Linked DNA regions of Homo sapiens. The protein of the gene in region 1 interacts with the protein of each later gene in a pairwise test. Each region holds a gene or a part of one and is shown on either strand. Other genes may lie near its edges.

What was found.
Region 2: the proteins of SLC35B4 (region 1) and STOM interact in binary tests that used the Homo sapiens proteins (3 or more experiments, as listed by UniProt).
Region 3: the proteins of SLC35B4 (region 1) and CISD2 interact in binary tests that used the Homo sapiens proteins (3 or more experiments, as listed by UniProt).

Annotation. Positions count from the first base shown.
Region 1 is NC_000007.14:134,303,330-134,307,084, reverse strand, and holds part of SLC35B4 (nucleotide sugar transporter SLC35B4), read left to right. Parts: intron 1-310; coding exon 311-413; intron 414-2,230; coding exon 2,231-2,280; intron 2,281-3,755. UniProt on the Homo sapiens protein: Antiporter that transports nucleotide sugars across the endoplasmic reticulum (ER) membrane in exchange for another nucleotide sugar.
Region 2 is NC_000009.12:121,356,559-121,360,313, reverse strand, and holds part of STOM (stomatin), read left to right. Parts: intron 1-3,755. UniProt on the Homo sapiens protein: Regulates ion channel activity and transmembrane ion transport. Regulates ASIC2 and ASIC3 channel activity.
Region 3 is NC_000004.12:102,878,908-102,882,662, forward strand, and holds part of CISD2 (CDGSH iron-sulfur domain-containing protein 2), read left to right. Parts: intron 1-3,755. UniProt on the Homo sapiens protein: Regulator of autophagy that contributes to antagonize BECN1-mediated cellular autophagy at the endoplasmic reticulum.

The DNA.
Region 1 (3,755 bases):
GTTCTTCAGAGGTATATGAAAATTATTTACAAAGAATCAATACAATCATTTTAAGTTGCTATGTATACTTGAAAATTTTTAAATAGTGTTTCTTTAAATGTATTTTATAACTTAGATTTTCCCATGTTAGTCTGGCTTTGTGAAGCGTTTTGATATGTACTTAGTAGTTGACATGGCATAATAGTGATGCAATCTTGCAACGCAGAGGAAACAGGCAAAATGCCTTTTTAGCCAAAAATATATATTTCCTATACTTGATTTTCTTGAAATCCTAGATTCTGTTTGATGAGCTGTTCTGTCTGCATTTCAGGTACTATGCCATAATGGTGACCATGTTCTTCACCGTGAGCGTGGTGAACAACTATGCCCTGAATCTCAACATTGCCATGCCCCTGCATATGATATTTAGATCCGTAAGTGCTGCCGGATCACGTGTATATGTTCCTCTGAAAAGTATAGTTAAGTAGATCGATTGAATATATGGCAGAACTAGAAGGTTCTTGTAGTAAGTGGTCTTGGGTAGAAGAATAGGTTTGTGAATGCGTGAGCAAGGGTGGCTTTCATCTGAGAAGGCAAAAAGAGAAATCTCAAAGTGGATGGTTTACTTTTATTCTTCTGAGGTCTAATGAGTGATTAATAAAAAGAAAATTAAATTTTCCCTAGGAAACAGATTTTACCTTCATTTTCCCTCATCTCTTTGATTTTATATTCAAACATGCTATTAATGTTATTTAACTTATTTCTTATCTCTTCTTCTTTCATAAAAGTACATTTACTTCTAGAACATGAAAGAGATACTTGTCTTTTCTGATTTTTTTTTTTTTTTTTAAGCAGAGACTTGAGATAATAAAGGGAAATTCTTGATGAAGGTAGGGTTTCTCCCAAAGCACTCCAGGCAAAAAAGGCTGATAATTGTGGTGATAACATTTCCATGTGGTCTGAGATTTTTGTGAGATTGTACTGTTCCTGAAGGGAGTTTCCAAAGCAATTATAATAAGGTGACCTTCAAAGCATTGAAAACATAGTGGACTTTCAATAAACACCTGTTGATTGATTGTCACCTTTTTAGAGAACAGAGAGATCCTTGCATGACTTTTTCCATTAAAACTGGTCAGGGGCTGTGCACAGTGGTTCAGGCCTGTAATCCCAGCACTTTGGGAGGCTGAGGTGGGTGGATCACCTGAGGTTGGGAGTTCGAGACCAGCCTGATCAACATGGGAAACCCCATCTCTACTAAAAATACAAAATTAGCTGGGCGTGGTGGCACACGCCTGTAATCCCAGCTACTCGGGAGGCTGAGGCAGGAGAATCGCTTGAACCTGGGAGGCAGAGGTTGTGGTGAGCCAAGATCGCAACATTGCACTCCAGCCTGGGCAACAAGAGCAAAACTCCGTCTGAGGGAAGAAAAAACTGGTCGGGGGTAGAAGGTGCAGGTAATGGGGAGAAACTTATTAAAAGCTCTTATAAATTAGGTGATGGAAATTTTGACAAAAATAAGTCTGTGATATCATTTATTCGTGCTAGCCCTGGCTTCAGCACTGAGCAATTACAGTTGACCCTTGAACAACATGGGTTTAAACCACGTGGGTCCACAAATATGCAAATTTTTTTCAAACAAATATGAAAATACAGTATTCACGGGATGCAAAACATGCCTATAAGGAGGGCTGATAATGACTATATTGAGAATTGATCCTTTTTATTCTCATTGTCATCTTTAAAAGGTTTTTTAAATATATATATATATACGTATATTTTTGGAGACGGAGTTTCGCTCTTGTTGCCCAGGCTGGAGGTGCAATGGCGCGATCTTGGCTCACTGCAACCTCCACTTCCCGGGTTCAAGGGATTCTCCTGCCTCAGCCTCCCAAGTAGCTGGAATTACAGGCAACTGCCACCACGCCCAGCTAAGTTTCGTATTTTTTAGTAGAGACAGAGTTTCACCATGTTGGCCGGGCTGGTCTCAAGCTCCTGACCTCAGGTGATCCGCCCACCTCGGCTTCTCAAAGTGCTGGGATTACGGGCGTGAGCCACCGCGCCCGGCCATCATAGTAGATTTTTATGGTTTATACTTTTGCCATCATAAGAACAACTAAATCTTTACTAATTATTCATCCTAGCTTCCTTCATTCCATGTTTTTTCCCCTTGCCCATGTTCCTATTCTCTCGAATTACGTTGTTTTTTTCCTAGTGCACTAAACCTCTCTGTTACTGTTGTCTCCTTTTGCAGGGTTCTCTAATTGCCAACATGATTCTAGGAATTATCATTTTGAAGAAAAGGTAAACAATACACTTCTGTATTTTGTGTATGGAAATGATACCCTGAGCCCCTGTCCATAAGCTAGTCACCTGGATTCCTTGTCCCAAAATAGTGATAAGTTTGCTTCTGGCCATCTACCTCTTTTCTTAGTTCTTTACCAGTGAGGCCCAATCATGCAATGTCCTGAAGCAGCTGATCAGGTAAGAGGCCACACCTGTGGTGTCTCTGTGTCGAACTGAATAGCTCTTGGCATCACTGAATTTTAGTGTCATACTAACCTGCGAAGCCAACTTACAAAGATGATAGAGAGGTTCACTGTGCAGTATGGTCACCACTAGCCACGTGTGACTATTTACATTTTTCAAAATTAAAGAAAATTAAATATTTAGTGTCTCAGTTTCATTAGTCACGTACATTTTTTTTTCTTTTTTTTGGAGACGAGGTCTCACTCTGTCATCCTGGTTGGAATACAGTGGTGTGATCTCGGCTCACTGCAGCCTCCACCTCCCAGGTTCAAGTGATCCTCCCACCTCAGCCTCCCAAGTAGCTGGGACCAAAGGCATGTGCCACCATGCCCGGCTAACTTTTTTGTATTTTTGGTAGAGATTGGGTTTCGCCATGTTGTCCCCGCTGGTCTCAAACTCCTAGTCACATTTTCAGTGCTCAGTAGACTCACAGAGCTGGTAGTGACCACGTTGGAGAGCCCAGATGTGGAACATTTCTAACATCTCAGAAATTCCATGGGATACTTCTGCCCTAGAAGATGCTTATCAGTACAGCATAGCAAACTAAGGAATGGTTGTACATATTAAAAAGGAAATTCCTAAAAAGGCCCAAATAGCCAAGAAGATGGAATGAAAGGTTCAGGACTGTTCTTTGTGACCATCACCAATGGCTCTCTTTGGGACAGGAGCAGGGGGGACAGGAGCAGGAAATACCAGAAGTACCTGGGATGCTTTTTCAAAGTTTTTGTCTGTCACCTTCATTCTGAGGTTCACCCCTCACTCCTAAGGAGGAAGGATGTTAGCAAGAGACAACACATACAGTTTGGGAAATTTATCAGGGAAAGTTCACTGTTAAGACCAAAATTATACAAGTTGATGGCAGCGTTTCAATGTATTTGATATCCAGCCCCAAGCTCTCTATACATGCTTGGAAAGTAGCTGTAAATTCAGAATGTGAGAACCTAGAGTTTTTAAGTATTAAGGGCTGTGTCATAAAAAGAACAATTGTCCTGTCCTACTAGGCTTCATATCATGGACCGTTTATCTCCTGAGGCTTATGAATTCCCTGAAAAGTACTACTGTAGTTGATTTCTTTCTTCTTGGTTCTCTGCATTTAAACATATATATATATATACATATGATGGTCAGGTTTATTACATTTGAAGTGATCATCATGCTTCTTATAGTGTGGAATTCGCCTTGGGACAGGCCTGTGCTCTTTCCCAACCTTTGATTCTGGCTCATGACAAGGATACAAAAGAACATGTTAT
Region 2 (3,755 bases), on another chromosome or scaffold:
AAGGTCAATTAAAAATAAATAAAAAATAAAAGATTAGACAAGATATAAGTGCCATAAGATAATTTTCAAAAAATGCTATCGAGATTCAAAGGAAAGAAAAAGACATATCTAGCTAGAAAACTTGCTGAGAAGTATTTTATTTTATATCTATTCTACTATGCAGGATACTGTGCTAGACATTGAGAATATAAAAGTGAATAAGCAACATCCCTGCCCTCAGGGAGTTTTTACTCTAGTATGTTATGGGAGACTTGGACAGTATTTGAAAAGGCACCAAATGCTGTCAGATAAATAAGTATTTGTGGTCAGTCTGTCCTTGTTTGGAATTCATTTCACCCTGGAAACCTAGACCTGTGTCTGTCACAGAGCCTTGAAACTATCTTTTGCTATAAATAGGCATGGCTGGCATTAAGAGGACTTCCTCTGTAAAAATATCAGATTTCATTCTCACAACTCCAGCCATGCTTTTCAGTTTGGATACTGTCTTGAGAAAGTGCTCAACCACGAAAACATTCTTAATGAGGATTTTTTTTATTGAGGGGTGAATTTGGAACACGGGCTTTGGAGTAAGATGACCCATATTTGAGTCCCAGGTCTTCCATTGTGTGACTTTGGGAAAGTTAAATGTTGCTTTAGGTAACTCATTTGTAAAAGGGATTTAAAAATACCCTCACAGGGCTGTTGTAAGAGTTAAATGAGATACATGTCTAAAGTAACTTTAAAAAATGCCTGGGGTATACACAACCCCTCAAAACAGCCACTGTTGCTATGATCAGTCATGGTAATACTAGATAAAGCTTTCTTCACAAACAGTACTATGGCCCTGCTTTGAATATTCTCTCAATGAATATGTCTGTACCCCCTAAATTATAACTTAGAAACCTCCAGGATTACTTTAGATCATTTTATTTAAGTATACATGAAGACATTTACCTCACACTATAACACAGGATCAGAAAACTACCAAGTCACATACAACCCAAGTACTCACTATATTTCTGATTTTTCATCCTATGTTTTAGAGCACTTGACCTGGGTGCCAACATGTGTCTCTCTTCTCCCATGTTCCCAGCCTGAACACTCTGCTTATTTCTTGGCCTCCTATTTATTCCAAGCCCCATCTTACTGCCATTTTGCCCTTTCTTCTGAGCAGTAACATGTGCCTGGCATACCTTTTCTCCCCTCTGTCATTAAAATAGCTCCTGAAAATACAGCAGAAGCCTTCCAAGTGGTTGATAAGAAAACCTACTATATCCCTTGGCCTTCTCAGTCCCTATGTCCTCTACAGAAAGCAAAAGCAAACTAAAAATGAGGATGACACTTGATACAGAAAATAGGAACACAACACTGAGGTGATGGGAGTTCCCAGGATGATAGTGAAAGCAATTGCAGAATGATAGCCGTGCACACCAGATGAAGGAAGTCCACACAAGGCTCTGAGAGAGAATTCTTCCAGAAGATAAAATTGATAGTATACCTGACCTCTTTGAGAGGAAATTTAGGCAATTGATTTAAGGTTGGATCAATAAGTACGTTGAAAACCGAACAAAGGGAAAAAATAAGACAGTAATTCCAGAAAAAACAAAAATAGTACAGGAAGAGAAAACCAGTGATACCTCACTACTTGGCTTAGCTTTAAATTGCACTTACAAATTCATAATATAAAATCTCATATTGATCTAAATGAAGTTATGATGTAATTATATTGGAAAGCTGGGTATAAGTATGTGGTGGGGGTAACGGGGAGGAAAGAGAACTAAATCTTTTTCTGTAGTAGAAAGTTAATAGTCCTCAAAACTGAAAAAGCAAGAAGTAACAAAACAAGCATTTCCTTCCTTCCTTCCTTCCTTTTCTTTCTTTCTTTCTTTCCTCACTTTGTTGTCCAGGCTGGGGTACATCACAGCTCACTGCAGCCACGAACCCCCAGGCTCAAGCAATCCCCCTATTTCAGTCTCCTCAGTAGCTGGGACTACAGGTGTGTGCCACCACACACAGCTAATTTTTTTTAAGAAGTTTCAAGTAGAGATGGGAGTCTCACTAGGTTGCCCATGCTGGTCTCAAACTCCTGAGCTCAAGCAATCCTCCCATCTCGGCCTCCCAAAGTGCTGGGATTACAGGCGTGAGCCACCATGCCTGGCAGAAGCATATTATTATTATTATTTTTTTTTTTTTTAAAGTAGAGACAGAGTCTCCCTATGTTGCCCAAGCTAGTCTCAAACCCCTGGGCTCAAGGGATCCTCCCTCCTCAGCCTCCCAAAGTGCTGGGATTACAGGTGTGACCCCTGCACCCAGCTGCAAAGCGTATTATTTAGAAATATGGAGGTAGATATCAAAATGGTCAAAATAGCAAATGTTTTTGAGGAGGAGGAAATTGGAAGAGGTGAGCATGGGAATGCCCTTTTTTTGTACTAATCATATAGAATGGTTTGACTTTTTAAACTTTATGCAAGTGTAACTTCAAAAACACAAATGCATAACCACGAAGGCCAAAAAAGAAGGTGAAAGAGAATAGCTACAGGGAAGAAAAATAGGTTACACATTTTATTTATTTATTTATTTTTAAAAATATGATTTAAGGCCGGGCGCAGTGGCTTATGCCTGTAATCCCAGCACTTTGGAAGGCCATGGTGGGCAGATCACTTGACGTCAGGAGTTCGAGGCCAGCCTGGCCAACATGGTGAAACCCCATCTGTACTAAATACAAAAAGTAGCCGGGTGTGGTGGCAGGTGGCTGTAATCCCAGCTACTCAGGAGATTGAGACGGGAGAATCGCATGATCCCAGGAGGTGGAGGTTGCAGTGAGGTGAGACTGTGCTGCTGCACTCCAGCCTGGGCAACAGAGCAAGACTCTGTCTCAAAAAATAAATAAATAAATATATATATATATATCATTTAAAAATATGGTGTGTACACTAGGAAAATTTTCAAAGAATATACCAAAATACCTCTGAATTTAAAGTAATTTTTCCCTCCTTTGTTATACTTCTGTGAATTTTTTGCATTATTACCTTTGTAATCAGACGGAAAAGCTGTTGCATATTACAGGAACAGGAAACAATTAGAAATGTGAGAGGAAAGCCGTGTACAAAGATGTTCACTACAACACTGTTTATAGCACTAAGAAATCAAACAACCTGTGTAATCAGGAAGTGGGCAATAAATGATGCTGCATAAACCTAGTGAAATATTTTACAGGTGTAATTTTTAAAAAGAGGCTCTAAACAACTTTATACTCATATCATATGGTTTTCACCTTTATTCGTACTGTACTCCTAGCTAAAATGCTCTAATGCCTTTTCCCTCTTTCCTTTTTCTTTTCTTTTCTTTTCTTTTGACAGATTCTTCCTCTGTTGCCCAGGCTGGAGTGCAGTGGTACAATCTTGGCTCACTGCAACCTCCACCTCCTGGGTTCATGCAATTCTCCTGCCTCAGCCTTCCCAGTAGCTGGGATTACAGGCACTCACCACAACGCCTAGCTAATTTTTGTATTTTTAGTAGAGACGGGGTTTTATCATGTTGATCAGGCTGGTCTTGAACTCTTGACCTCAAGTGATCCACCTGTCTCGGCCTCCCAAAGTGCTGGGATTACAGGCGTGAGCCACGACGCCCAGCCTCCACTTTCTTTTCGTCGATATTTTCTTACTATTACATCCTTCAGGAAACCCTCTGACAGCCACCTGAATCACCTCCCCGCCCCATTCCTTTCTCACCTCCATCCTAACTGCGTGAGTTAACTCATTCTGTGTCTTCAAAAT
Region 3 (3,755 bases), on another chromosome or scaffold:
AATACTACCCCAAACTGGGTAATTTATAAAAGAAATAAGTTTAATTGACTCACAGTTACGCATGACTAGGGAGGCCTCAGGAAACTTACAATTATGGTGGAAGGGGCACCTTTTTCACGAGGCAGGAGAGAAGAGTGAAGAGCAAAGCAGGAAGAGCCCATTTTAAAACCAGATCTCATGAGAACTCACTATCAGGAGAACAGCATGGGGGAGATTGCCTTGATGATTTAATCACCAACCACCAGGTTCCTCCCTTGACGTGGGGATTATGGGATTACAATTTGAGATGAGATTTGGATGGGGACACAGAGCCAAACCATATTAGTAGATACTTAATAATTATATAGTAAATATTTAATTTTTATAGTAATAATTATATAGTAAAAATTTGTTTAACAATGAGAAATTGATTTATTCTTTCAGAAAATGTTTAGTAAGCACTTAATAAAAATCAGAAGGGGGGGATTGATTGGGAAAGTACTACAAGAGCAAACTTTCTGGGGCAATGGAAATGTATTTTGTCTTAGGTGGTGTTTATAGGTCCATATAGTTACAAAACTCATCAAACTGAGCGCTTCACAAACACAAAGCTTGGCCAGGTGCGGTGGCTAATGCCTGTAATCTCAGCACTTTGGGAGGCTGAGGCAGGCAGATGGGAGTTTGAGACCAGCCTGGCCAACATGGTGAAACCCCATCTCTACTAAAAATATAAAAATTAGCAGGGCGTTTTGGCAGGCACCTGTAATCCTAGTGACTCAGAAGGCTGAGGCAGGAGAATCGCTTGAACCCGGGAGGCAGAGGTTGCAGTGAGCCAAGATCATGCCACTGCACTCCAGCTTGGGCGACAGAGCGAGACTCCATCTCAAAAACAAACAAACAAAAAGCACAAAGCTCAATAAACTGAACTGTAAATTAAACACTTCAAACAAAAGTAAGTTAAATAAATTGAGCCAGACGTTATATAGACACTGGGGACACAGATGATCAGACAAATAAGGTCCCTGCCCTTGTATCTCTCTTTTTCTTTTATTTTTTATTTTTTTTATTTTTTTGAGATAGAGTCTCTTCTCTGTCTCCCAGGCTGGAGTGCAGTGGTGAGATCTTACCTCACTGCCACCTCCACTTCCGGGATTTAAGTGATTCTCCTGCCTCAGCCTCCTGAGTAGCTGGGATTACAGGCGTGTGCCACCATGCCCAGCTAATTTTCTGTATTTTTAGTAGAGTTGGGATTTCACCATGTTGGCCAGGCTGGTCACGAACTCCTGACCTCAAGTGATCTGCCCACCTCAGCCTCCCTTAGTGCTGGAATTACAGGCGTAAGCCACCACGCCCAGCCCCCTTGTATCTCTTATATTGTGAGTGGGGAACATGATAGGTAGATGCAGCCATTAAAATTTATGTTTCCAACTGATATTAAGGAGTTGGGGAAATAATATAATAATCTGACATACCATTAAGTGAAAAATGCAATATAGCCTTATTTTTTAAGCATTTACAGCCTATGTATTTACATACCAAAAAAGAGATACATTTACCAAATAAATACATAAATGTTATTTTTTATAATCCTAAGACAAAAATAAATAATATGCTGAATAAAATACATTATTTTATACAAAAATTTGCTTGGTGTGGTGGCGCACGTCCATAATCCCAGCTATTTGGGTGGCGGAGGCACAAGAATCACTTGAACCTGGGAGGCAGAGGTTGCAGTGAGCCAAGATCATGCCACTGCACATCAGCCTGGGTGACAGAGTGAGACTATCTCATTAAAAAAAAAATATATTTTAAATTATTTTATTTGGTCAGGCACGGTGGCTCACGCCTGTAATCCCAGCACTTTGAGAGGCCAAGGTGGGTGGATCACCTGAGGTCAGGAGCTTGAGACCAACCTGACCAACACGGTGAAACCCCATCTCTACTAAAATACAAAAATTAGCTGGGTGTGGTGGCGTGCGCCTATAATCCCAGCTACTCGGGAGGTCACTGAGGCACGAGAATCGCTTGAACCCGGGCAGTGGAGATTGCAGTGAGCTAACACGACACACACTCCAGCCTGGGAAACAGAGCGAGACGCTGTCTCAAAAAAAAAAAAAAAAAATTTTTTTTGCACATTATTTACAGTTAGTAATATTTTCCTTTCAAAGTATCTAAAATATCTGTAATAGCTGAACATATATCAAACAGATCTATAGAGACTAGCACATGTAAAATTTTTTTTAAGTTTCTTGTTTGATTCTTCTGTATTTTATCTTTCTTCATATAAAATCAGCCTTAATTGACAGAGAAATATTCTATGTACTCATTCATATGTGGGAACTAAAAAAGTTGATCTCATGGAGATAGTCAAATGGTAGTTACCAGAGGCCAGGAAGGGTAGGGAGGGAGAGAATGAAGAGAGGTTGGTTAATGGGCACTATAGTACGGTTATATAGAAAAAGTTCTAGTATTCAATAGCATAATAGGGTGACTATTGTTATCAGTAATTTTAGTGTATATTTCAAAATAGGAGAGAAAATTTGGAATGTTCTCAATATAAATAAATGATAAATGAGGTGACGAATATCCCAGTTACACTGAGTTGATCATTGCACATCATATGCATGTATGCATGTAGCAAAATATCACTTGTACCCCATAAATATGTACAGTTATTATGTATCAGTACAAAAACAGCCTGAATAAATGTACTTACAGTCATTTGAATTGAGCTTTTCAAGCTGTATTGCTTTCATGTATAAAGTTTTTCAGTAGTTAAATTGTAGTTGGTTATCTTTAAAAAGTAGATTATGTTAAGACTTTGGTAAGTTATTACTTTGTTGTAGGAGGTAATAGTACCTCTCATCACTGTATTTTTAAGCATAGTGTTTTACCAAGGAATTAAGTGTTCAAAAGAATATTTTCTGAAGTGGATTTTAAAACAGTAGTAATACCATTTGTTCTTGAGGTTTGTGGGTTAAGATAGGAAATGCTATATTTAAGAGTCTAACATTAAGGTTTTCAACCAGGCATGGTGGCTCACACCTGTAATCCCAGGACTTCGTGGGGCTGAGGCAGGCGGATCACTTGAGGTCAGGAGTTTGAGACCAGCCTGGCCAACATGGTGAAACCCCATCTCTACTAAAAATACAAAAATTAGCCAGACGTTGTGGTGTGCTCCTGCAGTTTTAGTTACTTGGGAGGCTGAGGCAGGAGGATAGCTTGTGCCCGGGAGGTGGAGGTGGTAGTGACCAAGAGCACACCACTGCACTCCAGCCTGGGCAATGGAAGTGAAACCCTGTCTCAAAAATAAATAAATAAGATTTTCATCTTTGCGTTCCCATTCACTCGCTTTTTGATAAATTTAAGCTCTTATGACTTCTAAAATATTGTAATATGTACAATAATACTTAATGTTATTCTACATTGAACAAACATTTAATGACTGCTATTTCGAGTTACATACTGGATGCTGGGGCCAATTGCAAGCTAAGATAATTAGTCAGATAAAACAGAAGGAACTCCATATGCAAAGAACTCAAAAAGGCTGCTTACTAGACAGTAGCTTTCGCTGGCCTCAGGTACATGAAGAGACCATGTTTGTGGAAGTTGAAGCTGGAAAGGTAGCCTTGCCATTCTTTGGAGATGGCACCTTATAGAGCCAATGATCTATAGTAGCATTGTCCAGTAAAACTTTGTGGTAATGGAAATGTTCTCTGTACTGTTCAATATGGTAGTCAGTAGTCACATGTAGCTAGCTATTGAGCCTCTGAAAG